3 separate regions of the Homo sapiens genome follow, and all the other regions are linked to region 3. The links come from fine-mapping of genetic effects on gene expression. A gene starts in region 3. Each other region holds a variant in brackets. All regions are shown on one strand. Distances are between the middles of the regions. Region 1 overlaps NLRP2 (NLR family pyrin domain containing 2). Region 2 has its middle 21 kb from the start of LILRB4. Region 3 holds the start of GP6 (glycoprotein VI platelet).

What was found. PIP is the estimated chance that this variant, and not a neighbour inherited with it, causes the effect.
Region 1: its variant is fine-mapped to the expression of GP6 in lymphoblastoid cells (TwinsUK, PIP 0.95).
Region 2: its variant is fine-mapped to the expression of GP6 in prefrontal cortex (GTEx, PIP 0.95).

What each region holds. Positions count from the first base shown.
Region 1 is chr19:54,979,058-54,988,403 of GRCh38, forward strand. NLRP2 (NLR family pyrin domain containing 2) reads left to right here. Exons shown (of 13, transcript NM_017852.5): 5 at 2,560-2,625; 6 at 3,105-4,671; 7 at 5,990-6,160; 8 at 7,094-7,258. Among named protein-coding and RNA genes, the nearest start is that of NLRP2, 17 kb to the left of the region's middle. The variant C/G (reference allele first, on the strand shown) is at 4,456.
Region 2 is chr19:54,678,198-54,689,244 of GRCh38, forward strand. No RefSeq gene overlaps it. Among named protein-coding and RNA genes, the nearest start is that of LILRB4, 21 kb to the left of the region's middle. RefSeq lists a silencer at 6,345-6,545. The variant T/C (reference allele first, on the strand shown) is at 5,274.
Region 3 is chr19:55,033,459-55,042,318 of GRCh38, forward strand. It overlaps GP6 (glycoprotein VI platelet), which reads right to left and starts at 4,806. Exons shown (of 8, transcript NM_016363.5): 1 at 4,745-4,806. The coding sequence starts at 4,778. All of the region lies in intron 2 of GP6-AS1 (GP6 antisense RNA 1), which reads left to right. It also overlaps a transcript of RDH13 not described here.

The DNA of each region.
Region 1 (9,346 bases), 54 kb before region 3:
CACTGCAATCTCTGCCTCCTGGGTTCAAGGGGTCTTCCTGCCACAGCCTCCCCAGGTGCTGGGACTATAGGTGCCCACCACTATGCCTGGCTAACTTTTGTGTTTTTAGTACAGATGGGGTTTCAACAGGGTAGCCAGGTTGGTCTAGAACTCCTGACCTCAAGTGATCCACCTACCTCGGTCTCCTAAAGTGCTGGGATTACAGCTGTGAACCACCGCACCTAGCCTGTGATCAGTTTCAGATCAGCCTTGCTTACTCCACATTCCCTCTTATCTTCCTGGTAGCATTTTTGTTTTTTCTTGAGAAAGAGTTTTGCCCTTGTCGCCCAGGCTAGAGTGCAATGGTGTGATCTCGGCTCGCCACAACCTCCACCTCCCAGGTTCAAGTGATTCTGCCTCAGCCTCCCGAGTAGCTGGGATCATAGGCGCCCACCACCACATCTGGCTAATTTTTGCATTTGTTAGTTTTATTTTTAGTAGACAGGGTTTCACCATGTTGGGCAGGCTGGTCTTGAACTCCTGACCTCAGGTGATCCACCCACTTCGGCCTCCCAAAGTGCTGGGATTACAGGCATGAGCCACCGTACCTAGCCCACATTGACTTTTGATACAGCAAGTATTTCTTGCTATGGCTCTGTATAATAGAGGTGAGTAACTTGGTTGAAGGAATTGTTTGCCCTGTTCATCTCTCTAGACACGGCCAATGTCATTCCTGGCACACAATCTTTTTTTTTCTTGAGATGGAGTCTCACTCTGTTGCCCAGACTGGAGTGCAGTGGTGCAATCTTGGCCCACTGCAACCTCTGCTACCCAGGTTCAAGCGATTCTCCTGCCTCAGCCTCCCAAATAGCTGGGAGTACAGGTGTGTGCCACCACGCCCAGCTAATTTTTTGTATTTTAGTAGAGACAGGGTTTCACCGTGTTAGTCAGGATGGTCTGGATCTCCTAACCTCGTGATCCGTCCGCCTCAGCCTCCCAAAGTGCTGGGATGACAGGCGTGAGCCACTGTGCCCAGCCTAGCACACAATCTTGACAAAGAATTTCGGTGCGACTTGGGGTACTGTGGTGCCTGCTCTATCATCATGCTTCAGCAGGAAATGTGGGTGAATAGTGCCTGGTGGCATGGCAGGTAAAGAAATGTTTTGTTTTGTTTTTTTTTTTGAGACAGTCTTGCTCTGTCACCCAAGCTGGAGTGCAGTGGCGCAATCTCGGCTCACTGCAAGCTCCATCTCCCGGGTTCACGCCATTCTGCCTCAGCCTCCCCAGTAGCTGGGACTACAGGCGCCCGCCACACGCCCGGCTAATTTTTTGTATTTGTAGTAGAGACAGGGTTTCACCGTGTTAGCCAGGATGGTCTCGATCTCCTGACCTTATGATCCACCCGCCTTGGCCTCCCAAAGTGCTGGGATTACAGGCGTGAGCCACCGCGCCCAGCCGCGGGTAAAGAAATTTATGAAGACAATCGTAGGTAAAGGAAGGCAGATTTATTGGAGAAAGTAGGAAAAGACATTGGCAGAGAGACCCCAGCGGGCAGGTTGTCATGAGTAGCTCACTGCCAGGAGACCAAAGCTTCCTGCAGATTTTATAGAATAGGGCTTGGGCTGATTGATAATGTCAACAGGGGGTTTAACTTGCGGTCTTCTTTCAGCAGAAGTGTTTGATAAACTGAGGCGTTTCATGGCAAACAGGGAGTTTGTGAGCTCTGTGTGTGATCTGGCCAGGAAGGCCAAACATCTTGGGCCGTATCTCCTGGACCATAAAAGCAGACCTGGCCCAGTGCAGTGGTTCATGCCTGCAATCCCAGCACTTTGGGAGGCTGAGGTGGGTGGATCATCTGAGGTCAGCAGTTTTAGACTGGCCTGGCCAACATGGCGAAACCCCATCTCTACTAAAAATACAAAAATTAGCCTAGACGCAGTGGCACATGCCTGTAATTCCAGTTACTTGGGAAGCTGAGGCAGGAGAATCGCTTGAACCCGGGAGGCGGAGGTTGCAGTGAGCTGAGATTGCGCCACTGCACTCCAGCCTGGGCAACAGAGTGAGACTGTCTCAAACAGACCTATAGCTGACCTGTTTCCTCTTGTTTGTATGCCCTGAACCATGGAGGAAAGCTTATTTATTTATTTTATTGAGATGGAGTCTTGCTCTGTTGCCCAGGGTGGAGTGCAGTAGTGCGATCTCTTACTACAACCTCCATCTCCCAGGTTCAAGCAATTCTCGAGCCTCTTGGCCTCCCAAGTAGCTGAGATTACAGGCATGCGCCACCACGCCTGGCTAATTTTTGCATTTTTAGTAGAGATGGGGTTTCTGTGTTGGCCAGGCTGGTCTCGAACTCCTGAGCTCAAGTGATCCACCCCACCTCAGCCTCCCAAAGTTCTGGGATTATAGGCATGAGCCACCACACCTGGCCGGAAAACACATTTGTAGCTTATTTGCTTTATCTGATCCCGTGCCCCCCCTCCCCCCCGCCCCATCAGCCTGCCTCCTTTTCTCTAATTGGGACTCCACAGGAAATACACCTGATTTTGTGTCAATCTCACATGAGTTTGTATTTTGTAGCGTTTACAGAAACGAAAGGAAATGTCATCTGCCTGGGTAAAGAAGTCTTTAAAGGAAAAAAGCCAGGTCTGTACCATATCTTCCTGCAGGGAGCTTGGGATCAGATTTCTCTTTATAAACTTGAAGTCCTCTTAACTTTCCTATGTAACACAAAGCATTTATTTATGTATGTATGTATCGAGACGGAGTTTTGCTCTTGTTGCCCAGGCTGGAGTGCCGTGGCGTGATCTCGACTCACTGCAACCTCCGCCTCCCAGGTTCAAGCAATTCTCCTGCCTCAGCCTCCCGAGTAGCTGGGATTACAGGCATGCGCCACCATGACTGGCTAATTTTTTATTTTTAGTAGAGACAAGGTTTCTTCATGTTGGTCAGGCTGGTGTTGAACTCCCAATGTCAGGTGATCTGCCTGCCTCGACCTCCCAAAGGGCTGGGATTACAGGCATGAGCCACTGTGCCCGGCCAACACAAGGCATTTTGTTATTTTGGTTTTCCCTATGGGTAACTGATTGCATCCTCTCTCCCTTCCCTCCTCACCAATGATAAAGACAAAGACAATAGGTGCAGGTATATATTGAAGACGAAGTTCCGGGAGATGTGGAAGAGCTGGCCTGGAGATAGCAAAGAGGTCCAGGTTATGGCTGAGAGATACAAGATGCTGATCCCATTCAGCAACCCCAGGGTGCTTCCCGGGCCCTTCTCATACACGGTGGTGCTGTATGGTCCTGCAGGCCTTGGGAAAACCACGCTGGCCCAGAAACTAATGCTAGACTGGGCAGAGGACAACCTCATCCACAAATTCAAATATGCGTTCTACCTCAGCTGCAGGGAGCTCAGCCGCCTGGGCCCGTGCAGTTTTGCAGAGCTGGTCTTCAGGGACTGGCCTGAATTGCAGGATGACATTCCACACATCCTAGCCCAAGCACGGAAAATCTTGTTCGTGATTGACGGCTTTGATGAGCTGGGAGCCGCACCTGGGGCGCTGATCGAGGACATCTGCGGGGACTGGGAGAAGAAGAAGCCGGTGCCCGTCCTCCTGGGGAGTTTGCTGAACAGGGTGATGTTACCCAAGGCCGCCCTGCTGGTCACCACGCGGCCCAGGGCCCTGAGGGACCTCCGGATCCTGGCGGAGGAGCCGATCTACATAAGGGTGGAGGGCTTCCTGGAGGAGGACAGGAGGGCCTATTTCCTGAGACACTTTGGAGACGAGGACCAAGCCATGCGTGCCTTTGAGCTAATGAGGAGCAACGCGGCCCTGTTCCAGCTGGGCTCGGCCCCCGCGGTGTGCTGGATCGTGTGCACGACTCTGAAGCTGCAGATGGAGAAGGGGGAGGACCCGGTCCCCACCTGCCTCACCCGCACGGGGCTGTTCCTGCGTTTCCTCTGCAGCCGGTTCCCGCAGGGCGCACAGCTGCGGGGCGCGCTGCGGACGCTGAGCCTCCTGGCCGCGCAGGGCCTGTGGGCGCAGACGTCCGTGCTTCACCGAGAGGATCTGGAAAGGCTCGGGGTGCAGGAGTCCGACCTCCGTCTGTTCCTGGACGGAGACATCCTCCGCCAGGACAGAGTCTCCAAAGGCTGCTACTCCTTCATCCACCTCAGCTTCCAGCAGTTTCTCACTGCCCTGTTCTACACCCTGGAGAAGGAGGAGGAAGAGGATAGGGACGGCCACACCTGGGACATTGGGGACGTACAGAAGCTGCTTTCCGGAGTAGAAAGACTCAGGAACCCCGACCTGATCCAAGCAGGCTACTACTCCTTTGGCCTCGCTAACGAGAAGAGAGCCAAGGAGTTGGAGGCCACTTTTGGCTGCCGGATGTCACCGGACATCAAACAGGAATTGCTGCGATGCGACATAAGTTGTAAGGGTGGACATTCAACGGTGACAGACCTGCAGGAGCT[C/G]CTCGGCTGTCTGTACGAGTCTCAGGAGGAGGAGCTGGTGAAGGAGGTGATGGCTCAGTTCAAAGAAATATCCCTGCACTTAAATGCAGTAGACGTTGTGCCATCTTCATTCTGCGTCAAGCACTGTCGAAACCTGCAGAAAATGTCACTGCAGGTAATAAAGGAGAATCTCCCGGAGAATGTCACTGCGTCTGAATCAGACGCCGAGGTTGAGAGGTGAGAACCGTTTCACTCTACCAGTCGTTCCATCTTTAGCCTCATCCCATGCCCCCTTAGGAAGAGGCCAGAGCCTCCTATGCACTGTGGCTTAGGGTCAGGAATTCCCTCTTGTTGGACTCTTTGTTTGTTTTTGTTTTGAGATGGAGTCTTGCTCTGTCGCTCAGGCTGGAGCGCAGTGGCGCGATCTTGGCTCCCTGCAACCTCCGCCTCCCGGGTTCAAGTGATTCTTCTGCCTCAGCCTCCTGAGTAGCTGGGACTACAGGCGCCTGCCACCTTGCCCGGCTAATTTTTATATTTTCATTAGAGACGGGATCTCAGCATGTTGGCCAGTCTGGTCTTGAACTCCGCCTGACCTCAGGTGATCCACCTGCCTCAGCCTCCAAAGTGGGATTACAGGCATGATTCACCATGCCCGGCCCAAATATATTTTTTTAAGACAGGGTCTTGCTGTGTTGCTCAGGCTGGAGTACAGTGGTGAAATCAGCTCACTGCATCCTCAAACTTCTGGGTTCAAGTGATGTTCCTGAGTACCTGGGATGACAGGTATTAAGTGTGCACCATCATGTCCAGCTAACTTAAGTGGGGGTTTTTTTTTGTGTTTTTTTTTTTTTTTTTTTTTTTGGAAAGACAAAATCTCACTATGTTGTCCAGGCTGGTCTTGAACTCCCAAAGCACTGAGATTACAGGCATGAGTTACCACACGCCCTGCCTGAATATTTCTTATTGATATGTATAGATATGTATATTCCCAATCTTTTTTTTTTTTTTTGAGACGGAGTTTCACTCTTTTTCCCAGGTCGGAGTGAAGTGGCTCGATCTCGGCTCACTGCAACCTCCGCCCCACCAGGTTCAATGATTCTCCTGCCTCAGCCTCATGAGTAGCTGGGATTACAGCCACCCACGACCATGCCCAGCTAATTTTTGTACTTTTAGTAGAGACGGGGTTTCACCATGTTGGCCAGGCAGGTCTCGAACTCCCGACCTCAGGTGATCCACCCGCCTCAGCCTCACAAAGTGCTAGGATTATAGGCGTGAGTCACCGTGCCCGGTCTATATTCTCTATCTTTTATCAATGATGTGCTTAGCATTTTAACTTATTTTTACCCTCTATTGGATTTTTGTCTAAGAAGAATAGGTTCTTTCTCCTGTGATGCTTCTTGGGTGTTGAGTTGTCTGATGGTGGTGCTAATAAGTGATTACATGGTCCAGCTTTCAATTGTACTCATTTGTCAGGGGTATATGCCCAGAGAAACCCTAAATACTTCAGCCGTGATGGACACACATTTGGTGTAACCCTTTCTTCTCTTCCCTATAGATCCCAGGATGATCAGCACATGCTTCCTTTCTGGACGGACCTTTGTTCCATATTTGGATCAAATAAGGATCTGATGGGTCTAGCAATCAATGATAGCTTTCTCAGTGCCTCCCTAGTAAGGATCCTGTGTGAACAAATAGCCTCTGACACCTGTCATCTCCAGAGAGTGGTGTAAGTAGAAACTAATTCATGAACTCAAATCCTTAGGGTATGAAAATGGTACAATGTTAACATCGGAGCAATATTCAGATTCCTGTACTAGACTCTTAAGTGCTCGAGACACAGGGAATTGAGAGAGTCCTGTCCTTAAATTTATTTTGTGGGATAATCGTATAAAGTAATTTCTAGGGGCTGGGCATGGTGGTTCACACTTGTAATTCCAACACTTCGGGAGGCCGAGGCAGACAGATCACTTGAGGTCAGGAGTTCGAGACCAGCCTGGCCAACGTGACAAAACCCTGCCTCTACTAAAAATACAAAAATTATCCAGGCGTGGTGGCAGGCACCTGTAATATCAGCTACTTGGGAGGCTGAGGCAGGAGAATTACTTGAACCCAGGAGGCGGAGGTTGCAGTGAACCAAGATCCTGCCACTGGACTCCAGTCTGAGTGACAGAGCGAGACTGCGTCTCAAAAAAAAAAAAAAAAAAAAAGAAAAAGAAAAAAAGGGCCGGGCACAATGGCTCACGCCTGTAGTCCCAGCACTTTGGGGGCCCAAGGTGGGGGGATCACTTGAGGTCAGGAGTTCAAGACCAGCCTGGCCAAGATGGTGCAAGACCCTGTCTCTACGAAAAATACAAAAATTTGCCAGGTGTCGTGGCAGGTGCCTATAATCCCAGCTACTCCGGATGCTGAGGGTAGGAGTCGCTTGAATCCGGGAGGCAGAGTTTGCTTTGCAGTGAGCCGAGATCGCGCCACTGCACTCCAGCCTGGGCAACAGAGTGAGACTCCATCTCAAAGAAAAAAAAAATCTGTAAAGATGGACAAAAATTTAAACATGGAAAAAATAGTTCCTAAAGTTTAAATATATCGAGCCCCTGGTTTCCATTTAAGTACGATACAGGTGTACACACTAAAGATTTCACTTTCGTTCTCTTTTCCCTAGGTTCAAAAACATTTCCCCAGCTGATGCTCATCGGAACCTCTGCCTAGCTCTTCGAGGTCACAAGACTGTAACGTATCTGACCCTTCAAGGCAATGACCAGGATGATATGTTTCCCGCATTGTGTGAGGTCTTGAGACATCCAGAATGTAACCTGCGATATCTCGGGTATATCTCTTAATCATTAAAATCCTTCATCATACAAACATAAGCTACCACAAGCTTATGTGGCAATTTTGTGTAAATAAGAAAAAGTTCGTTATTCTGACTAGAAACAGTACTAAGGGCAGATGACCCAGGATGCAGCATGGGCTGAACTTGAGTTTCTACTTGCCTTGAACAGTAAACACCCTGGACAACCATACGTGAGGACCCTGAATCCAAAGAAACTCCCAGAATCTTTATCATCTTTTTTTTTTTTTTTATGAAGTCTTGCTCTGTTGCCCAGGCCAAAGTGCAATGGCACGATCTTGGCTCACTGCAACCTCTGTCTCCTGGGTTCAAGTAATTCTGCTGCCTCAGCCTCCCAAGTTGCTGGGATTACAGGCACCCGCCACCACGCCCGGCTAATTTTTGTGCATTTAGTGGAGCTGGTTTCGCCACATTGCCAGGCTGGTCTCGAACTCATGACCTCAGGTGACCTGCCCTCCTCAGGCTCCCAAAGTGCTGGGATTATAGGCATGAGCCACCATGCCCAGCCAGAGTCCTTATGTTTTGGTTTTGGTTTTGGTTTTTTCTTTTTCTTTTTTCTTTTTGAGATGGAGTCTCGCTCTGTCACCCAGGCTGGAGTGCGTTGGTATGATCTCAGGTCACTGCAGCCTCCACCTCCCAGGTTCAAGTGATTCTCCTGCCTCAGCCTCCTGAGTAGCTGGGATTACAGGTGCACACCACCACACCTGGTTAATTTTTGTATTATTAGTAGAGATGGAGTTTTACCACATTGGCCAGGCTGGTCTCGAACTCATGACCTCAGGTGATCTACCCCCCCACCCCCACCCCACCCCGCCGTCGGCCTCCCAAAGTGAGGCATGAGCCACCGTGCCCAGCCCAGAATCTTTATCTTCTATCAGAGATCATTCACTCATGGTTCATGCTTCTCCTGTATGATGATTCAGAATACCAGCTATTGACATTTTTCAAGCAAGAACCCTTCAGGAACATCAAGTTGCCCCTTTTCTGTTAGTCCTCTGGTTTGAGAGCTCTCCCCTTGGGAAGCTGTCCAGTGGCTGCCCAGGCGATGAGAACCTACATGCATCATGGGGTTCCATGAAGCCTCACTTGGCCACACTGGTGTAGTAGGTGGTCATTGGCCTCAAATTATTGCCCTGGGCCAGGCGCAGTGGCTCACGCCTGGGAGGCCGAGGTGGGTGGATCACTTGAGGTCAGGAGTTCAAGACCGGCCTGGTCAACATGGTGAAACTCTGTCTCTACTAATAATACAAAAATTAGCTGGGCATGTTGGCGCACGCCTGTAGTCCCAGCTACTCAGGAGGCTGAGGCAGGAGCATCATTTGAACCTGAGAGGCGGAGGTTGCAGTGAGCTGAGATCACACCACCGCACTCCAGTCTGGGCAACAGTGTGAGACTGTCTCAAAAAAAAAAAAAAAAATCTTGGCTGGGTGCGGTAGCTCATGCCTGTAATCCCAGCACTTTGGGAGGCCAAGGCAGGTGGATCACAAGGTCAGGAGTTCAAGACCAGCCTGGCCAACATGGTGAAACCCCACGTCTACTAAAAATACAAAAACATTAGCTGGGCATGGTGGCGCGTGCCTGTAATCCCAGCTACTCATGGAGGCTGATGCAAGAGAATTGCTTGAACCTAGGAGGCAGAGGTAGCAGTGAGCCAAGATCACGCCATTGCACTCCAGCCTGGGCAACAGAGCAAAACTCCATCTCGAGGACAGAAAAAAAATTGATTGCTCTGGCTCTACTGATACAATCTTAGGCTGCTTAATGGGATCTTAGTTGAATAGGATGCTGTACATCTTACAGGTATTGGAAGGTTGAATGAAACCAAGCCCATGCATTCAATAGTGGCTGCTATCATTACTAACCGTTGCAATTACCCTCTTTTCTTTTTGCCTGAGAATAATGGGATGCAGGGTGAGGGGGAATATTGGGTGAATTAAAGATTTGGGTCACTAATTTCTTTCTTTTTTTCTCAAGATATAGTCTTGCTCTGTCTCCTAGGCTGGAGTGCAGTGCCACAATCTTGGTTCACTGCAACCTCTGCCTCCCGGGTTCAAGTGATTCTTC
Region 2 (11,047 bases), 350 kb before region 3:
GCACATCAAAAGACACCCAAACCATTACTTATTATAAAAATTCATAGGAATCCACAGTGAGACACTACTTCAAACACTGGATTGGCCATATTCTGAAAAATAACAAATGTCAGGAAGGGTGTGCGGAAAGAGAACCTTCACGCACTGCTGGCATGATTGTGAAATTTTTCGGTGACTGTGAAAAGTGGTTTGGAGGCCGGGCGTGGTGGTTCACGTTTGTAATCCCAGCACTTTGGGAGGCCGAGGCAGGAGGATCACCTCAGGTCAGGAGTTTGAGACCGGCCTGGCCAAAATGGCAAAACCCCTTCTCTACTGAAAGTGCAAAAATTATCTGGGCACGGTGCAGGTGCCTGTAATCCCAGCTACTCAGGAGGCTGAGGCAGAATAGCTTGAACCCAGGAGCAGAGGTTGCAGTGAGCCGAGATCGTGCCGCTGCACTCCAGCCTGGGTGACAGAGCCAGACTCCATCAAAAAGAAAGAAAGAAAGAGAGAGAGAGAGAGAGAGAGAGAGGGAGGGAGGGAGGGAGGGACGGAGGGGGAGAGAGAGAGAGGAAAGAAAAGAAAGAAAGAAAGAAAAAGAGAGAAAGAAGAAAAAGAAAAAAGCGGTTTGACAGTTCCTTAAAAGATGAACCTAGGAAGGCTTATATGCTGTTGGTGGTAAATTAGCTCAACTTCTATGGAAAACAGCATAGAGGTTTCTCAAAGAACTAAATACAGAACTGCCGTTTGACCCAGCAATCCCACTACTGTAAAAGAAATAATTATATTAAAAAAGACACACGCACTCGTATGTTCACCGTGGTGCTATTCACAATAGCAAAGTCATGGAACCATCCTAGATGTCCATCCATCGTGGCATGGATAAAGTAAAAGTGGTAAATATATAGCCCAGAATACAGCATAGCCATAAAAAATAGTGAAATCATGTCCTTTGCAGGAACATGGATGGAGCTGGAGGCCATGATCCTACGTGAACTAACTCAGAATCAGAATACCAAACACTGCATGATCTCACTTACAAGTGGGAGCTACACAATAGGCACTCATGGACATAAAGATGGAGATAAACACAGGGAAACCCAAAAGGGGGGAAGGGTGGGAGGAGGGCAAGAGGTTAAAAAAATATATTAGGGCTGGGTGCGGTGGCTCACGCCTGTAATCCCAGCACTTTGGGAGGCAGAGATGGGGGGGATCACCTGAGGTCAGGAGTTCGAGACCTGCCTGGTCAATGTGCAGAAACCCCATCTCTACTAAAAATACAAAATTAGCTGGGCATGGTGGTGCATGCCTGTAATTCCAGCTACTCGGGAGGCTGAGGCAGGAGAATTGCTTAAACCTGGAAGGTGGAGGTTGCGGTGAGCCGAGATCGCACCACTGCACTCCAGCCTGAGCAACAAGAGTGAAACTCCATCTCAAAAAAAAAAAAATCTATCTATCTATTTATATATATATATACACACACACACATACATACACCAAACAAGCACATGTACCTTTTGAATATAAAATAAAATAAAATAATAATATAAAATAAAATAAAAAATAAACCTAGAATTACTCTATGATCTAGAAATTTCACTTCTAGGTATGTGACTAAAGGTTTAGGTTATACAAGACGAATGAAGTTTGCAATGTACCCTACAACATTTTGTCTTTAGTTAACAATACTGCATCATGAAGTTAAAAATTGGTAGGAGAATTAACTCTTCCTACCACAATAAAAAAAAAGACTGATAGTAGATATTGTGAAAGGAAATTAAATTTTGGGACCCCACACTCATTTAGCTAAGGGGGAAAGTCAAGCTGGGGACTGGGTCACACAAACCTGCCTCTCCATTTTGGTTCGTGAATAAGATGGCTACAAGGTGAAAAGCTACATGCCTCCCCCACGTTTTGCCCACAAGAAGATTCCTAGTGAGCTGTTAAAATTTCACCATGGCAATGTAAATTGATAGCTTATCTTTCCAATGTATATTGATAGCTTATCTTTCCAGTGTATACTGATAGCTTATCTTTCCAGTGTATATTGATATCTTATCTTTCCAGTGTATGATAGCTTATCTTTCCAATGTATACTGATAGCTTATCTTTCCAGTGTATACTGATAGCTTATCTTTCCAGTGCATACTGATAGCTTATCTTTCCAGTGTATACTGATAGCTTATCTTTCCAGTGTATGTTGATAGCTTATCTTTCCAGTGTATATTGATAGCTTATCTTTCCAGTGTATATTGATAGCTTATCTTTCCAGTGTATATTGATAGCTTATCTTTTCCAATGTATATTGATAGCTTATCTTTCCAGTGTATATTGATAGCTTATCTTTCCAGTGTATACTGATAGCTTATCTTTCCAGTGCATACTGATAGCTTATCTTTCCAGTGTATACTGATAGCTTATCTTTCCAGTGTATGTTGATAGCTTATCTTTCCAGTGTATATTGATAGCTTATCTTTCCAGTGTATATTGATAGCTTATCTTTCCAGTGTATATTGATAGCTTATCTTTCCAATGTATATTGATAGCTTATCTTTCCAGTGTATATTGATAGCTTATCTTTCCAGTGTATATTGATAGCTTATCTTTCCAATGCATATTGATAGCTTATCTTTCCAGTGTATATTGATAGCTTATCTTTCCAGTGTATATTGATAACTTATCTTTCCAGGTACAGTCTCCCCAGCCCATCAGACACAAATGCATATCTGATCATTCCCCCACCCAATTTTGTCTATGTTTATCTTATGTAAAATGCAGATTCACTGCATATTTTCCTCTGCCCCATTTGTTTTTGTCGTCTGATGTAAAAAGTGCAGATTCACTGAACCAGACAAAGGCATGAATGACTATTTTTAAAAAAAATACAGATTCACTGAGCTAGACAAAGGCATGCGTAACTATTTTTCCTTACCCTCCTCTTACATGAAAATTGTGTGCTTCTCAATATCCCGCCCTTTACCCTTTAAATTTGGATCCCTCAAAATCATCTTCAGAGAAAGGCATAGATCTGTCTCCCAGGCACATCTTTAACTTTGGCAAATAAATCTCCTGAAATGATAAGAGACTTATCTCATTGGACAATATCCAAACACTTGTGCCCAAGTGTTTATAGAAGCATTATTCACAATAAAAAGATAAAAGTATCACAAATGTCCACCAACCAACGTGTTGCATCCATATGTTAGAAATTTACTCATCCATAAAAATGAAGTACTGATGCATGCTGCAATTTGGAGATTCAAAATATGAAGCTAAGTGAAAGAAGCCAGATCCAAAGGTCACATACTATATGATTACATTTATATAAAATGTCCAGCAGCTGGAAATCCACAGAGACAGAAAGCAGATTGATGGTTGCCTGGGGCTGAGCAGGGGTAGGGAGAGGAGAGGGACTGCTCCGTGGAACGGGGTTCCTTTTGGGGTGATGAAAATCTTTGGGAACTAGAGGTGGCAGTTGCTGCAATGAAAATCTACTAAATGCCACAGAGTTGTATATATATATATATGTATTTTTTTTTTGAGACGGAGTTTCACTTTTATTGCCCAGGCTGGAGTGCAGTGGTGTATTCTCGCGTCTCTGCAACTTCCGCCTCTCAGTTTCAAGCGATTTTCCTGCCTCAGCCCCCCAAGTAGCTGGGATTGCAGGTGGCCACCACAACACCTGTCTAATTTTTCTGTATTTTTAGTAGAGACGGAGTTTCACCATGTTGGCCAGGCTGGTCTTGAACTCCTGACCTCAGGTGATCCACCCGCCTCGGCCCCCCAAAGTGCTGGGATTATAGGCGTGAGCCACTGCGCCCGGCCTAGAGTTGTATACTTTTAAAGGGTCAATTTTACATTATCTGTATTTTACTTCAGTGAATGGAAATTTAAGAAAAAAGAGCATGGTTCTATGCAGATTTCTTTTATCTTAAAAAGTTGCAACATGACCCAGTGTTTTTTTTTTTTAATGTGAGGTAGGATTCCTAATAAGTGAGAGACGTCCTAAGTCCCACAGTGTTCAGACATGAAGCTGATCTTTTCACCTTACATCTTAAATTCTAATGTGGCTGAGTACAGAATTCGGGATGAGCTCCAGGATTCCTGCAGTCTGTAACTTTTTCTGACACTTTACCATTCCACCCGTGATGACGGATTGTTCCTGACTTACCTTTGGAACATAAAGGCTCTTACACCACGTGTCTGGATCTGGTAAAAGAGATTACACGAGATTGAGAGCCTTACATGTCTCAGGCAATACTCATCCTCAAACCAACCCTGAGATATGGGTCATTATCTTCTTCTATAAGGAGGAAAATGGGAAAGAGGTGTTACATGATCAAGGTCAACCATCAGTAAATTCCACCCTCATGTCTTACATTAACACCTGTTCATTTCCTCCAGGGATCACTCTTGCCCAAAGCATGGAGACAGAATCCATGGTATCAGCTGAGGGCTGTGAGCAGGGAAGAAAAGAGGTAGTAAGGAAGGAGAAATGACTCAGATGTTTTGACAGAGAGTGACCCTGTTTGCCCCAAGAACACTTGCGGGTTACAGTCCTAATCTTACCCCCAAAGTGTTCCCAGACCAAACTGAGGGTGGGGCTGCTATTTCTCATGGCCCAATAATGAGATGCGGATGAACTGGGGAGGGAGAGAGTTTTTATTTCTGTTACCGGTTACAGGGAGAAGGCCTGGAAAACATTGCCAGACCAACTCAAAATTACAAAGTTTCCCAGAGCTTATATACCTTCTAAGCTATTTATTAAAAAATGCAGCTATTTTCTAAGCTATCTTCTAAGCTAAGCTAAGAAGATAGCTAAGCTTCTTCTAAGCTAAGCTAAGAAGATAGCTAAGCTTCTTCTAAACTATCTAAGCTAGATAAGCTTCCAAACTATCTTCTAATAAGTTTAGAAGATTCTAAGCCATTAAGCTACCTAAGCTATAGTCTTCTAAGCTATCTTCTAATCTAAGCTTAGAAGCTTAGCTATCTAAACTAAGCTAAGATATTCTAAGCTTCTAATATCCATCTTTCACATCACCCATTTCCTGCATGGGATATGGCACGCCAGAGACCCAGGGGATGTTTTCTGCATGAATCTAGTAATAAACAAATACCTGCATCCCTCAGGGCTGATAAAGAGTCTATAAACCTCAGATGGAGAGTCTAGAATGTTAGAACATAAACCAGGGAATGTGTCAGATGCCTAAGAACCTTCACAGCAATTCTAGCAATTCTTCATAAAAGCAGCTGTCATTTACTGAGCATAGTTCATCAGGTTATCTCTAGGCATA[T/C]AATGAAAATAATAATCATAGTAAAAAATAGCCCACATTATTGAATGACTGCTAAGAACATGGTAGAATTTCACTTTGTACATCACATGTATTAACTATGTAGTTCCCCACCAAAACCATGTAAGGTAGATACTAGCACTATACTAAGTTTATATATGACACAATAGCAATGTGGGTAACTTTCCCTAACTCACGAAGTTAAAAGGGGCAGAGCTGTGATCAAATCTCAGGCTTCCTGGCTCCAGAGTCTTCCCTGTTAGTTCAACTGATTGCTTCCTATGAGAGGTAGAATATAATAATCTCTGATTGTCAACCCACCAAATATCCTTACAAAGAAGACATTTTTATTATTGCAATTTTATAGAAAAGCAAAGTGAGCCTCAGAGAGGCAAAGTGACTTTCCCAAGGAGACAGAGATAGCAAGAGGCAGATGTAGGTTTTGAAAGTACTGTGATGTAACTCCAAGCCTGTTGCTTTTTTTTTTTTTTTTGAGACCGAGTCTTACTCTGTTGCCCAGGCTGGAGTGCAGTCACGTGATCTCAGCTCTCTGCAAGCTCTGCTTCCTGGGTTCATACCATTCTCCTGCCTCAGCCTCCCAAGTAGCTGGGACTACAGGCACCCGCCACCACGACTGGCTAATTTTCTTTTTTTTTTTTTTTTTGTATTTTTGGTGGAGACAGGGTTTCACTATATTAGCCAGGATGGTCTCCATCTCCTGACCTCATGATCATCCCTCCTCAGCCTCCCAAAGTGCTGGGATTACAGGCGTCAGCCACTGTGTCTGGCCCCAAGCCTGTTGCTTTTTAGTCAATACCCTATAAACTGGTTTCCTGAACATGGTCTGGAAAGAGATGACCTGAGGTGGATGAGGAAGAGCCAACTCTAAATGCCACCCTGGGCCGTGCTAGTGGTTGTCCTGCTGGGTGAGCGGCTAACATCATAAGCTTCTGAATTCCATTCCTATTCAGAATCCATGGAGTGGATGTGTCTTTTTCCAATTTATTCTGATGCATTCGCTAAATATTTATTAGACACCTTCAGGGAATCTCTATTTAGGAGTCTCTAAGAGGGGGCCCAGCTCATACAAATGTATCAACTAACACACCAGAAAACAGTGGAAGCCTTGTTGCTTCCTGGACTCTGACCATGGTGCTGAAACTAGAGTTCATGGCAACATCCCAGTCAGTGCTGTGGACAGCGACCACAGGAGCCACTCTCCTGGGGCTGGGGCCTGATAGAGGAAATAGGAATGGTGTCTAGATACAGGGCCAGGTCTGTTGGAGACCTTGAATAGGAGCCAAAATTGAACAGGATGTGGGGAAGCTCAAGAGGTTGATGACGTCTAGCTGGACCATGGAATGTTGCTATCTAAATAGGCAATTATTTTTGTACTCTACACCAGGGTAGGCAGACAGGAAGCCAAGAGGGAAGCATCCTGGAACTTCCTTCGTCATACAGAATACTGAGTTTCCTTGGCTGCTCATGAGTGTATATTATGAGTGCAATAAAGTTTGAGTGCGATTATCCCTTAGACTAAAATCTGTTTTTGCAAGAGTTTTCTTCAGAGAAATGGAACCAATCAGATGTTTATTTATGTATATACCTATCCTCTGTCTATCTAGCTATCTGTTTATTTCTCTAGGAATGTGCATTATGAATACAATATGGCCCCTCTTACTGTGGGCCAACGTTTGTTCCATGTTTTAGCCAATGAACCAGACAAACTGTTAGAGCCATGTCTAGCTCACTGAGATGCAACATTAAATGCAGGATCTCTCCTTAGTAGGTCCATATCAATAACATTGGCCTGGCTCAACTTTATCTTCCTTTCACCATTATCCAACACCCTTAATGTCCATTCGCACACATGTTCCCTAGATTTCTAGGTGTATAAATCAGAAGAACTTAGTAGTCACTTTGGAGTGTAGCACATTTCCCCATGGATCACACATTGAACCTATGGCTTAGAAGCAAAGATGGGTAGTGGGGGCGGATCCTGAGGAAAATTAGCACTGTCTTGCATGGCAACTGCCTCCGCGGAGGCCACTATTGTTTCCTCAGACAGTGCAGGGTTAATCTCCTCAGATGCACGGGGAGAGAATGCTTCCATTGTCAAAGAGCATGATTAAGGAACTCACTGTCCTTACCTTCATCAGTGTCTTTCACACATCCCTATTCCAAATGTCAAGATTCCACACCTTCCGAATCAATACCCTTAAAGTAGACACCCTTTGAGGCTGGGAATTCCATTTGTATTGTAATTTAGCCACTTGAAGGGTGAGTTTCTGGGTTTGCTTTTTCTTTTTCTTTTTTTTTTTTTTTGAGACAGAGTCTTGCCCTTGTCCCCCAGGCTGGAATGCAATGGCACGATCTCGACTCACTGCAACCTCCACCTCCTGAGTTCAAGCAATTCTCCTGCCTCAGCCTCTTGAGTAGCTGGGATTACAGGCACCAGCCACCACACCTGGCTAATTTTTGTATTTCTAGTAGAGACGGGATTTCGCCAAGTTGGCCAGACTGGTCACGAACTCCTGACCTCACATGATCTGCCCACCTCGGCCTCCCGAAGTGCTAGGATTACAGGCGTGAGCCACCGCACCTGGCCCCAGGTTTGACTTTTCAAAGGCCTCAGCCCTGTGGCTACAAATGATGAGTATCTTTTAGGGCAGATATAGAAGTCTTAGCTCATTTATGTTTGCACTTGAACTGAAAATTCAAATCTTTGAATTCATCCTCTTCTTTCCCCAACTTTGTCCAGTGACAACCCAGCCAATCTCATTATGCTCATTAGTTTTCAAAAACATTCAAAAGTATTATGTACATGATCACTCAGATTCTTTTTTTTTTTTTTGAGACGGAGTCTTGCTCTGTCGCCCAGGCTGGAGTGCAGTGGCATGGTCTCCGCTCACTGCAAGCTCCGCCTCCCAGGTTCATGCCATTCTCCTGCCTCAGCCTCCCAAGTAGCTGGGACTACAGGCGCCCACCACCACACCTGGCTAATTTTTTAGTATTTTTTTTTTTTTTAGGAAAGATGGGGTTTCACCGTGCTAGCTAGGATGGTCTCGATCTCCTGACCTCGTGATCCACCCGCCTCGGCGTCCCAAAGTGCTGGGATTACAGGGGTGAGCCACCGCACCCGGCCCACTCAGATTCTTATAAATGTTTGTTAGGCGTTTCCAATGATGACATTTGGTGTATCCCTATGGCCACATCATGTTATGCACTATCAACACTACTGGAAATGGAGTCATTAGTGTTTTTAAATCTAATCAAATTAGAAAGCCGATTTCAGAAACTTTGGATCCAATTCAGAAAACTCATCCTTAAAAATTCTGTTCCTTTGGAATCATCCCTGGAACCAAAATGATTTTTTTTTCAAGGGTTCTCCAGAGAAATTGAACCAGCAGAATGTTTATTTATGTGTCTATCTGTGTATCTATGTATCTATCTATGTATCTATCCATGTATCTATGTATCTATCTATTTATCTATCTATCTATTTATTTGTTTATCTATTCATTTACCTAGGAATTGGCTCATGTGATTGTAGGAGCTTGGTGAGTCCAAAATCTGCAGGACAGTAGAGTATCCTGGAGACTCAGGAAAGAGTTGTAGCAAACTAAAAAATCCAAAGACAATCTGCTGGAAGAATTTCTTCTTGCTCAGGGGAGCTCTCTGCTATTACTTTATTGTTATTTTGCTCACAAGACATGTATCATCCTATAACATATTGGATTTTCTATTAATTTTTGTTGTTGTCTAATATCCATCTTTCTCAACTATAATATTGATTCAATACAGACACTTTTTTAGAAGTCTTTCTGTCTTTTTTCTGATACATCTTATACACCAAGAATCACGTTTGACCCATTAGATACTTAATGTGTGCCCATGAAAACAGTGAATAAAAGTGTCTCCACTTCTTCCAAGTTTATTTTTAACACTGGAGCAAATGATTTCTACTTGATTCTCTCTTTTTTTCTCCCTTCCAGGCTGCCTTTAGTGCAAAGTCCTCAGAATGGAAAAATATTCTTGGGGGAGGCAAAACCTTAAGGTTGGCAAGAAACAAACCCCAGCCTTATCCTTACTTTCCTTCTCTCAGTTAGATCTCAATGTCCTTGGCTGCAATGCCGTCTCTACCTAGTCTACTTCAAGCTTCCCAGATATGATTTCCTCTCTAAGTTTCTCTGTCTCTTCCTGTCTCTGTCTCTCTATTGTTCTGTTTCTTTCCATCTCTCTCTTTCTTGCTCCAACTTTCTCAGTCGACTAAAACTAATAGCTACGAATAGCTTTCAGTAATTTGAACATTTCACGGATGTTTTTCTAGATCAACTGAAATCCCTATGCAAACACTGTCACTGTACTTGCAGATGAAATGATAATCACTTCCCGGCAAGAAAAGGATCTCATGGTAGTCTTAAGCCTTTATCTCAGGGTTAAGATGCCCCCTTTTGTGGAGGTGCTTAGACTGTGACTATGGCAGTTGCTTTCCCAGCAAGAAACTGCATTTGGTAAGTGGACCTTCTTTCAGTTAGAGAGCCATATTCTTAGAGATGTAGAATATTTGTTGCAACATATATGTGTGTGTGTATATATATATATATATATATATATATATATATATATATATGGTGTAAACATCCCGGTCTATTTCCCCTAAGGTCAAAACTGAACATGGAAAAGAAACATGGGGCAGGGGTATTTTCTGAGAGTTCCTGAGACACAGAACCACCCCAGCCTTCCCACTCAGGGCTGCCTGGCATCTCCTGTTTACCTTCTCTGTCATAGCCCCATCTGAAAGACTCTGTCTGAATAAATATACCAAACCTCATAGTCTTAGCTCTCCTCTTTGTACGAGGGGTAAGAGTGTGTTCAGGTCTTGGCTCCTGTTCACACACCTGTTGTCTAATGGCAACTGGTACTTAGGACATTTGAAATATCTCTGGTGGCTGCATGCTGCACTTTGGTTGGCAATGGCTGTACGTCTCTGAAAACCTTCTGTGATGATTGCAAAACGGTACACTTTCATCTCCTTTCTTATGGGTTCCGGGGAGCCGAATGCACTTGATTTCACCAGTAATATATGTCTATAGACAATTTCTCAGATCGGCGTGAAGAAGGTAAATTATATCTTTCATTTAGAAAAATATAAATCTCACTTTTACAAAACGTGACTAAGAATTGTCAAGGCTTAGAGAGCAGGAATAATCAGGGACTATATGGGTGTTCATGTCTAATAAATGCAACTCTGATCCTTAACCGTATTTAAAAGCGCTTTCAGAGTTCCGAAACCTTTTCATCTGCTCCAGATTCACTGGGTTCTGAAGCCAAAGCTTTCTGAAACTGTTCCTCCTCTCAGCCCCTAAGTGGTGAACGCTTGGTCTGTTCTGACAGCTGAGATCCTAGCCACGGGAGCGTGAGGTGAGGAATTTCCTGTCACCATCCCAGAAAGTAAAATATAGCCTCATTATTTCCTAATTGTGTTTCCATAAGAAAAACAAAGAATTCGATAAAAGAAACAAAGACCAGTATTTACTTTTTCATAAATGATTGTAGTTACTGAAGGACATATGGGGCCCGTAATCACAACGGGTCTAGGACTCACAGGTATTTTCTCGTCTCCATTATTTACCATAATTGTGTCATTCTCACTCCTGCTTACATGATTTATTTGGTATAATTTAAATGTATTTGTATGTTTTCTCTATGACTTAATGGGCAACATGCCCCTTTCTCTAACTTGTGTTTGTTGGTTTGTTGATCTCTGATACAAA
Region 3 (8,860 bases):
GCTCGTTCGTGTTGTGTTAGACACGGTGGGCTCGTTCGTGTTGTGTTAGACACGGTGGGCTCGTTTGTGTTGTGTTAGACACGGTGGGCTCGTTCGTGTTAGACATTGCCCATTGACTTCCTCAGTGGATGTGAGGAATGGGACCTGAGACATTGCTGTCCCTTCGTTTCCTCCCTTCAGTCTCCCAATATTAAATAATATCCAAGTACATTACAATAGTATGCAATTGTATAGACAAGTATTGTAAATACTATTGCATATTGTATATTATTGTATTTTATTGTCTATGTAATATATGCGATAAAACCCCACACTAATGGGATGCATTGGGCTCCAAGGATGGAGCAGGATGGAGCCTCAGCGTGTAAGTCAGGACGTCTCAGCATGTGCTGGCCATGGGTTTCCCGGTATTTACAACATTTGCTTGAATCAGTATTCCATGATTACATGATAGGATATAATATATATAATAATCGTTTCAAATAGCCTGAAGGAGGATGGGGAAAGTTCCCAACACAGAAAGGATGCATGTTTGAGAAGATGGGTGTGCTACTTACCCTGATCTGATTACTATATGTATATACACATATAGTGCATATATGTAAACCTACATCTATACATACATGTGTATGTACATATACACGTGTGTACATACACACGTGTATATGTATGTATATGTATATATGTATGCATGTGTGTGTGTGTGTGTGTGTGTGTGTATACATATGTATACAAATACATGTACATAAGCGATCCCCTCCTGGAATTGCTTGAGCCCAGGAGGTCAAGTCTGCTGTGAGGTAAGATTGCACCACTGGCCGGGCACGGTGGCTCATGCCTATAATCCCAGCACTTTGGGAGGCCAGGGTGGGCGGATCACAAGGTCAGGAGTTCAAGACCAGCCTGGTCAACATGGTGAAACACCATCTCTACTAAAAATACCAGAAATTAGCTGGGCATGGTGGCACGTGCCTGTAATCCTAGCTACTGGGGAGGCTGAGTCAGGAGAATCACTTGAACCCGGGAGGCGGAGGTTGCAGTGAGCCAAGATCACGCCACTACACTCCAGCCTGGGCAACAGAGCAAGACTCCATCTCGAGGAAAAAAAAAAATGATATTGCCCCATTGCACTCCAGACTGACAACAGAGCAAGACCCTGTCTCAGAAAACGAAGAGGAGGAGGAAAAAAAAAGTACTAATTATCTGAAATTCCAATTTAACCAGGCATCCAGTGTTTTATCTGGTAACCCTCATTCTTACACACACACACACACACACACACACACAAAGGCGGGATAGTTGTCATTCCCACTGTAAACATAAGGAAACTGGGCAGAGGCCAAGCAACCTTGTGTAGCTCACATAGCAAGAAGTGGGTGAACCCAGCTCATGTCTTGACTCTGAGCTCAGAGAGTGACAACTTGTCACCAGCGCCCCCATAGCCACCACCCTTTGTCCACCCCAGGCTCCCTCTGCACCCCAACGCAAGCTCCGGCCGCTTCTCTGTCCCCCTCCTCCTGCCGCATCACAGCCCACCTCAGCCTCTTTGTAGGTTTCCATGCGACGCTGTACCATGGCTGGGAGTCTTCCAGGCGCCGTGCTGAGCGCCTTCTGTGCATGGACTCCAAGTCGCCATAATCGTACGGGTTACCCACCATTATCAGTCCCCTCTTATACATCAGGCTAGTGAGACAGTATCTTATCCACAGTCCTACAGCTGGCAGGAGTAGATTCAAACCCTAGCAGCACCAATTAGTGGTAAAGAGTGTGGACTTGGGAACTTACAGGAGTAGAGAGCACAGTGGTGGTTACCGGGGCGGTGGGGTAAGGTTTGGGGAGATGTTGGTCAGAGGAGGACAGTTTCAGTTGGACAAGAGGAGTATGTCTTGGAGATCTACTGCACATCATGGTGACTGTAGTTAATAACAACATATTGTACACTTGCATATCACCGATAGTAGATTTTAAATGTTCTCACCGGCCGGGCGCGCTGGCTCACACCTGTAATCCCATTTTGGGAGGCCAAGGTGGGCGGATCACCTGAAGTCAGGAGTTCGAGAGCAGCCTGACCAACATGGTGAAACCCTGTCTCTACTAAAAATACAAAAATTAGCGGGGCGTAGTGGCAGGAGCCTGTAATCCCAGCTACTTGGGAGGCTGAGGCAGGAGAATCGCTTGAACCTGGGAGGTGGAGGTTGCAGTGAGCCAACGTCATGCCACTGCGCTCCAGTCTGGGCAACAGAGTGAGACTCCATGTCAAAAAATAAAAATAAATAAAAATAAATGAGCGTGGAATACTACTCAGCCATTAAAAGGAGTGAAATAATGTCTTTTGGCCAGGCACAGTGGCTCACATCTGTAATGCCAGCACTCTGGGAGGCCGAGGTGGGTGGATCACGAGGTCAAGAGATCAAGACCATCCTGCCCAACATGGTGAAACCCCATCTCTACTAAAAATACAAAAATTAGCCGGGCATGGTGGCGGGTGCCTGTAGTCCCAGCTACTCGGGAGGCTGAGGCAGGAGAATCACTTAAACCCGGGAGGTGGAGTTTGCAGTAAGCCGAGATCACACCACTGCACTCCAGCCTTGGTGAGAGAGCGAGATTCCGTCTTTAAAAAAAAAAAAAAAAAGTCTTTTGCAGCAACTTGGATGGAGCTGGAAGGCATTATTCTAAGTAAAGTAATACAGGAGTGGAAAACAAAAATCTGTATATTCTCACTTATAAGTGAGAGCTAAGCTGTGGGTATGCAAAGGCATGCAGAGTGATGTAATGGACTTCAGAGACTCAGAAGGGAAGGGCAGAAGTGGGGCAGGGATGAAAAACTACACATTAGGTACAAGGTACACTAGTCAGGTGACAGGTGCACTAAAATCTCAGAATTCACCAGAATATAATTCATCCATGTAACCAAGAACCACTTGTATCCCAAAAGCTACTGAAGCAACAAGCCAGATGCAGTAACCTGTACAGGCCACACCTGTAACCCCAACACTTTGGGAGGCCGAGGTGGGTGGATCGCTTGAGCCCAGGAGTTCAAGACCAGCCTGGGCAACATAGCGGACCCCCGTAACTAAAAAAATTACAAAAACAAGCCAGGCATGATGGTGTACAACTGTAGTTCCAGATACTCAGGAGGCTGATGGGGAGGCACTGGTTGAGCCTGGGAGGTTGAGGCTGCAGTGAGCCATGATCATGCCACTGCCCTCCTGCCTGGGTGACAGAAGTGAGGCCCTATCTCAAATAAAATTAAATAAATAAAAGTTAAAACAGGCTGGGTGCGGTGGCTCACGCCTGTAATCCCAGCACTTTGGGAGGCCGAGGCGGGTGGAACCTGAAGTAAGGAGCTTGAGACCAGCCTGGCCAACATGGTGAAACCCCGCCCCTACTAAAAATACAATAATTAGCCAGACCTGGTGGCAGATGCCTGTAATCCCAACTATTCGGGAGGCTGAGGCAGGAGAATCACTTGGACCCGGGAGGCAGAGTTTGCAGTGAGCTGAGATCATGCCATTGCATTCCAGCCTGAGCGACCGACTGAGCGAGACTCCATCTCAAAAAACAAACAAAAAGAAAAAAAGAATACATCCATGGATGGATAATGAATGAGAGGTTGTTTATATTCACAGTTAACCCTCTCATCTCCAGTAATGCAACCATCTTCTTCCTGCTTAGCCTTTTGGAGATGCTGTCCCTTTAGTGGTCAAATTCTGAAGAAATCAGGAAATAATGCATTCGACATGCCCAGCACAAGTGAAGATCAGGCAGCAGAAATGCATTCGACCTGCCACCCATCCATCAGGAGACTATTTACTCCACTACTGTAGGGGATACTGACAAATTAAATCCATACCTAGTCCAGATATCAATTCCACAATTTTTTTTTTTTTTTTTTTGAGACGGAGTTTCGCTCTTGTTGCCCAGGCCAGAGTGCAATGGTGTGATCTTGGCTCACCGCAACCTCCACCTCCCAGGTTCAAGCGATTCTCCTGCCTTAGCCTCCAGAGTAGCTGGGATTACAGGCATGTGCCACCACACCCGGCTAATTTTGTATTTTTAGTAGAGATGGGGTTTCTCCATGTTGGTCAGGCTGGTCTCAAACTCCCGACCTCAGATGGCCCACCCGCCTCGGCCTCCCAAAGTGTGTAAGCCATGGCACTCAGCCTTTTTTTTTTTTTTTTTTTTTTTTTTTGAGATGGAGGCTCTCTCTGTTGCCCAGGCTGGAGTGCAATGCCTGACCTCAGCTCACTGCAACTTCTGCCTCCCAGTTTCAAGCAATTCTCCCACCTCAGCCTCCCACGTAGCTGGGATTACAAGCACCCGCCATCACGCCCGGCTAATTTTTGTAGAGATGGGGTTTCACCATGTTGACCAGGCTGGTCTTGAACTCCTGACCTCAGGTGATCCACCCACCTCGGCCTCCCAAGGTTGAGATTACAGGCGTGAGCCACTGTGCCTGGCCCACATTTTTTAAAAAAGGGGCAACTGCAGTGTAGTAGAACAAAGTTGTGACCAATGCTAGGATACTCTGTTCATTTCCTGACCCAGCCATGAATACACTGGAATAACTCATGCAAAATGCCAGCTCGCTGGCCCCCCGTTTCCCCACCCAACAAATGAAGGGGCTCTTACAGGTTCCTTTTTGTCCTGAAATTCATCACCAATGCAAATTTCTTAAAAATCCTTTGTCTGGCAGTCCATGCCTGTCCTTCAGCATTTCCCAGATCTGACCCTCAGGACTCACCAAGACAGAAGAGGGCGGTCGGGGATGGAGACATGGTTCCTCAGCCCTGTCCTGAGCTCTGTGGCCAGGGAGGGAAGTGGTGGGAGCCTGGGGCACAGGCTCAGGATGTGATGAGGATGAAGAATGCTCTCCTCCCTTCCTCCACCAGCCCCGGCCTTTCCTAATTGAGACTCATCGAGCCGTAGCCGGCTCCTCAGTACAGTGACTTGCACACAAGCTCCAAGGAGCCGCGCTTATCTCCTCTGGCCAGCCTGGCGTTGCACCGTTTGTCCGCCTGCTGGGGCCTGGTCTGTGTTCCCGTGCTCCCATAAACTCCCTGATGTCACTAGGAAAATACGCATCAAAACCACAGTGAGATATGACTTCACACCTTCTGGAATGGCTGTATTTTTTTTTTTTCTTTTGAGACAAAGTCTCGTTCTTTTTGCCCAGGTTGGAGTGCAGTGGCGCCATCTCGGCCCACTACAACCTCCACCTCCCAGGTTCAAGCGATTCTCCTGCCTCAGCCTCCCAAGTGGCTGGGATTATAGGTATGTACCACACCAGGCTAATTTTTGTATTTTTAGTAGAGATGGGGTTTCACTGTGTTGGCCAGGCTGGTCTTGAACTCCTGACCTCAGTTGATCCACCTGCCTCGGTCTCCCAAAGTGCTGGGATTACAGGCATGAGCCACTGCACCCGACCGGCTATAATTTTTTTTAATGGAAAACAGCAGATATTGGTGAGTATGCAGAGAAATTGAACTGCGCGTGCATTGCTGGCAGGGACGTAACATGGCGCCCCTGCTGTGGAAAACAGTTCCAGCAGCTCCTCCAGAAGTTAAACGTGGGATTGCCATAAAATCCAGCAATTCCACTTCGGGGTACACACCTAAAAGAACTGAAAACAGGGTCTCTAACATATTTGTACACAGTGTTCATAGCAGCTTTATTCACAATAGCCAAAAGGTGAAACCACCCACATGTCCATCAACAACAATGGATAAACAACATGTGGTATATACACACAAGGTAATATCAACCAGCCTTAACTAAAAGAATAAAAATCAGCCAGGCACAGTGGCTCACGCCTGTAATCCCAGCACTTTGGGAGGCCGAGGCGGGCGGATCACCTGAGGTCAGGAGTCCGAGACCAGCCTGGTTAACATGGTGAAACCCCATCTCTACTAAAAATACAAAAATTAGCTGGGCGTTAAATTAGCCGGGCATGGTGGCAGGTGCCTGTAATCCCAGCTACTTGGGAGACGGAGGCATGAGAATCGCTTGAACCTGGGAGGCAGAGATTGCGGTAAGCCGAGATCGCACCACTGCACTCCAGCCTGGGCGGCAGAGTGAGACTGTCTCAAAAATAAAAATAAGGCCGGGCGTGGTGGCCCATGCCTGTAATCCTAGTACTTTAGGAGGCTGAGGCAGGCAGATTGCCTGAGCTCAGCAGTTCAAGACCAGCCTGGGCAACACAGTAAAACCCCCAAAAAATACAAAAAAAAAATAGCCGGGCATGGCGGCAGGCACCTGTAGTCCCAGCTACTCCGGAGGCTGAGACAGGAGAATGGCTTGAACCCGGGACGCGGAAGTTGCGGTGAGCCGAGATCGCGCCATTGCACTCCAGCCTGGGTGACAGAGCGAGATTCTGTCTCCAAAAAATAAAAAATATTATAAAAGAATAAATTCAGATACATGCTACAACGTGATGGACCTTGAAGACATTATGCTAAAGGAAATATTCCGGACTTGACAGATAAATACTGCATTGTGCCGCTTATCTGAGGTATCGAGAGGAGTCAAATTCATAGAGACAGGGATTAGAATGGTGGTTGCCAAGGCCTGGGAAAAGTGGGGAGTTACTATTTAATAGGGAGCGCTTAGGTTGAAGATGATGACAAAGTCTGGGGGATCCATAGTGGTGATGGTTACACAACACTGTAAATGTATTTATATTTAATGCCATTGACTGTTTTTTGTTTTTTGGTTTTTTGAGACGGAGTCTCACTCTGTCGCCGAGGCTGGAGTGCAGTGGCGCGATCTTGGCTCACCGCAACCTCCGCCTCCCAGGTTCAAGCGATTCTCCTGCCTCAGCCTCCTGAGTAGCTGGGACTACAGGTGCGTGCCACCATGCCTAGTTGATTTTTTGTATTTTTAGTAGAGACGGGGTTTCACCGTGTTAGCCAGGATGGTCTCGATCTCCTGACCTTGTGATTTGGCCTCCCAAAGTGCTGGGAATACAGGCATGAGCCACCGCGCCCGGCCAGTGCCGTTGACTTGTATGTGCACTTACAGGTGGTTAAAATGAGAACTATCAGGGTGTTGATATCTAAAAACCTCCCTGCCATCATCTTCCCTACATCTCTCATTCAGTGACCATGGTTGAATGCCTGCCACCTTTCAAATATTATGTCAGGCACTCAGTATTGGCAGTTTTATCCATTATAAATGCTTTAAGCTGCATAGAATTTTAAACGTGTTAATAAAAGTAGTTATAAATCTTTAATACATAAGCTGGCTTTAAAATTATTGGTAAAATAAGATTAGAAATGTCTTAAGAATTGTTGGCGTTTTTGTTTGCACTTATTGAACGAGTGGTTTCATGCTTATCCCTGCAGAATACTATGAGATTTGTCATAAGGGTTATAAAACTATAAACCCGGCTGGGCGTGGTGGCTCACGCCTGTAATCCCAACACTCTGGGAGGCCGAGGCAGGCAGATCACCTGAGGTCGGGAGTTTGAGACCAGCCTGACCAACATGGAGAAACGCCATCTCTACTAAAAATACAAAATTAGCTGGGTGTGGTGGCGCATGCCTGTAATCCCAGATACTCAGGAGGCTGAGGCAGGAGAATCGCTTGAACCCGGGAGGCAGAAGTTGCAGTGAGCCGAGATTGCGCCACTGCACTCCAGCCTGGGCAACAAGAGTGAAACTCCATCTAAAATAAATAAAAATAAAACATTTGTTTTTTGTAGAGTTGGGGTTTCACTATGTTGCCCAGGCTGGTCTTGAACTCCTCCTGGGCTCAAGCAATCCACCGACCTCAGCCTCCCAAAGTGCTGGGATTACAAGTGTGAGCCACTGTGCCTGGCCCTATTGGGTCCTTTTAAAAGATACATAAAAAATCAAATGCAACAGTGAAGTCAATCACCCGATGGCAGAAATTGGGGTGCTCCTGGCATGTGGTCGGTCGAAGCCAAGGACACTGCTCAGCATTCTGCAGTGCACAGGACGGCCCCGCCCAGGCGGAGAATGATCCGGTGACACATATAGGTGGGAAGGATGCACGAATGATGGCGTTTAGGAAGAATATTATCACTTCTTTCCCGTAAGAGCAACTTAGAGCAAGAAAATGGTATTATTCTTAGGGCCTTCTCTCTTATGGAGGCTCCAAGCCAGGGTTGCCATGGCAGAAGATGCTGGGCTTGCTTTTTCCTTGAGAGAACTGTACTCAAGATGATGTAACTGTCACCCCGGGTGCCACTTGGGTGCTTTGGAGAAGCGCTCAGACGCGACACGCCGTGACGACTCCGCGGCAGGCAGCCGGACCTGTCCTCTGGCGTGCGGTTCACGGGCTGTGTTTATCCCCCTGGTTCCTTCACAGCCACCTTGGGAAATACGTTGCCTCTGAATCACGCCAGGCAGGCTCTCACTGTGTGTGCTGCGGGGCTGGAAATCAGGGTGACACTCCGCTACCGAACAGCCTGACTAGGAAGCCAGAAAGACGCTGCCGGCTTTAGTTTGTCCTTTGACTTTCCTTGATATGAATGAAGATAGAGCACTTCCACACTGCACAACAGGAAAAGCCCAGAACGCTTCCTGGAGATAGCGAGGGGGTGATGCAGCGGACAGCTATGGCTGATGACCCCCTCACCTCTGACTCCCCCTCCCTCCCTGCTTTCTGAACGCACATCCATCACCAACCATAGGTTCCTGTTTGGGGTTTGCTGGCTGGAAAAAAAAAAAAAAAAAAAAGGAAAGCTGGCTTTCTAGTAAAAACCACTTCCTTTGCTCATTTATCAAACTCAAACGCTAGGAGGGCCACCTAACATCCTCCGTCCCACGCAATGGGGTGTTTCTGGAGCACTCCGGTTTATCAGGGACCCTGTCAGTTGCCATCGCACATGTATATG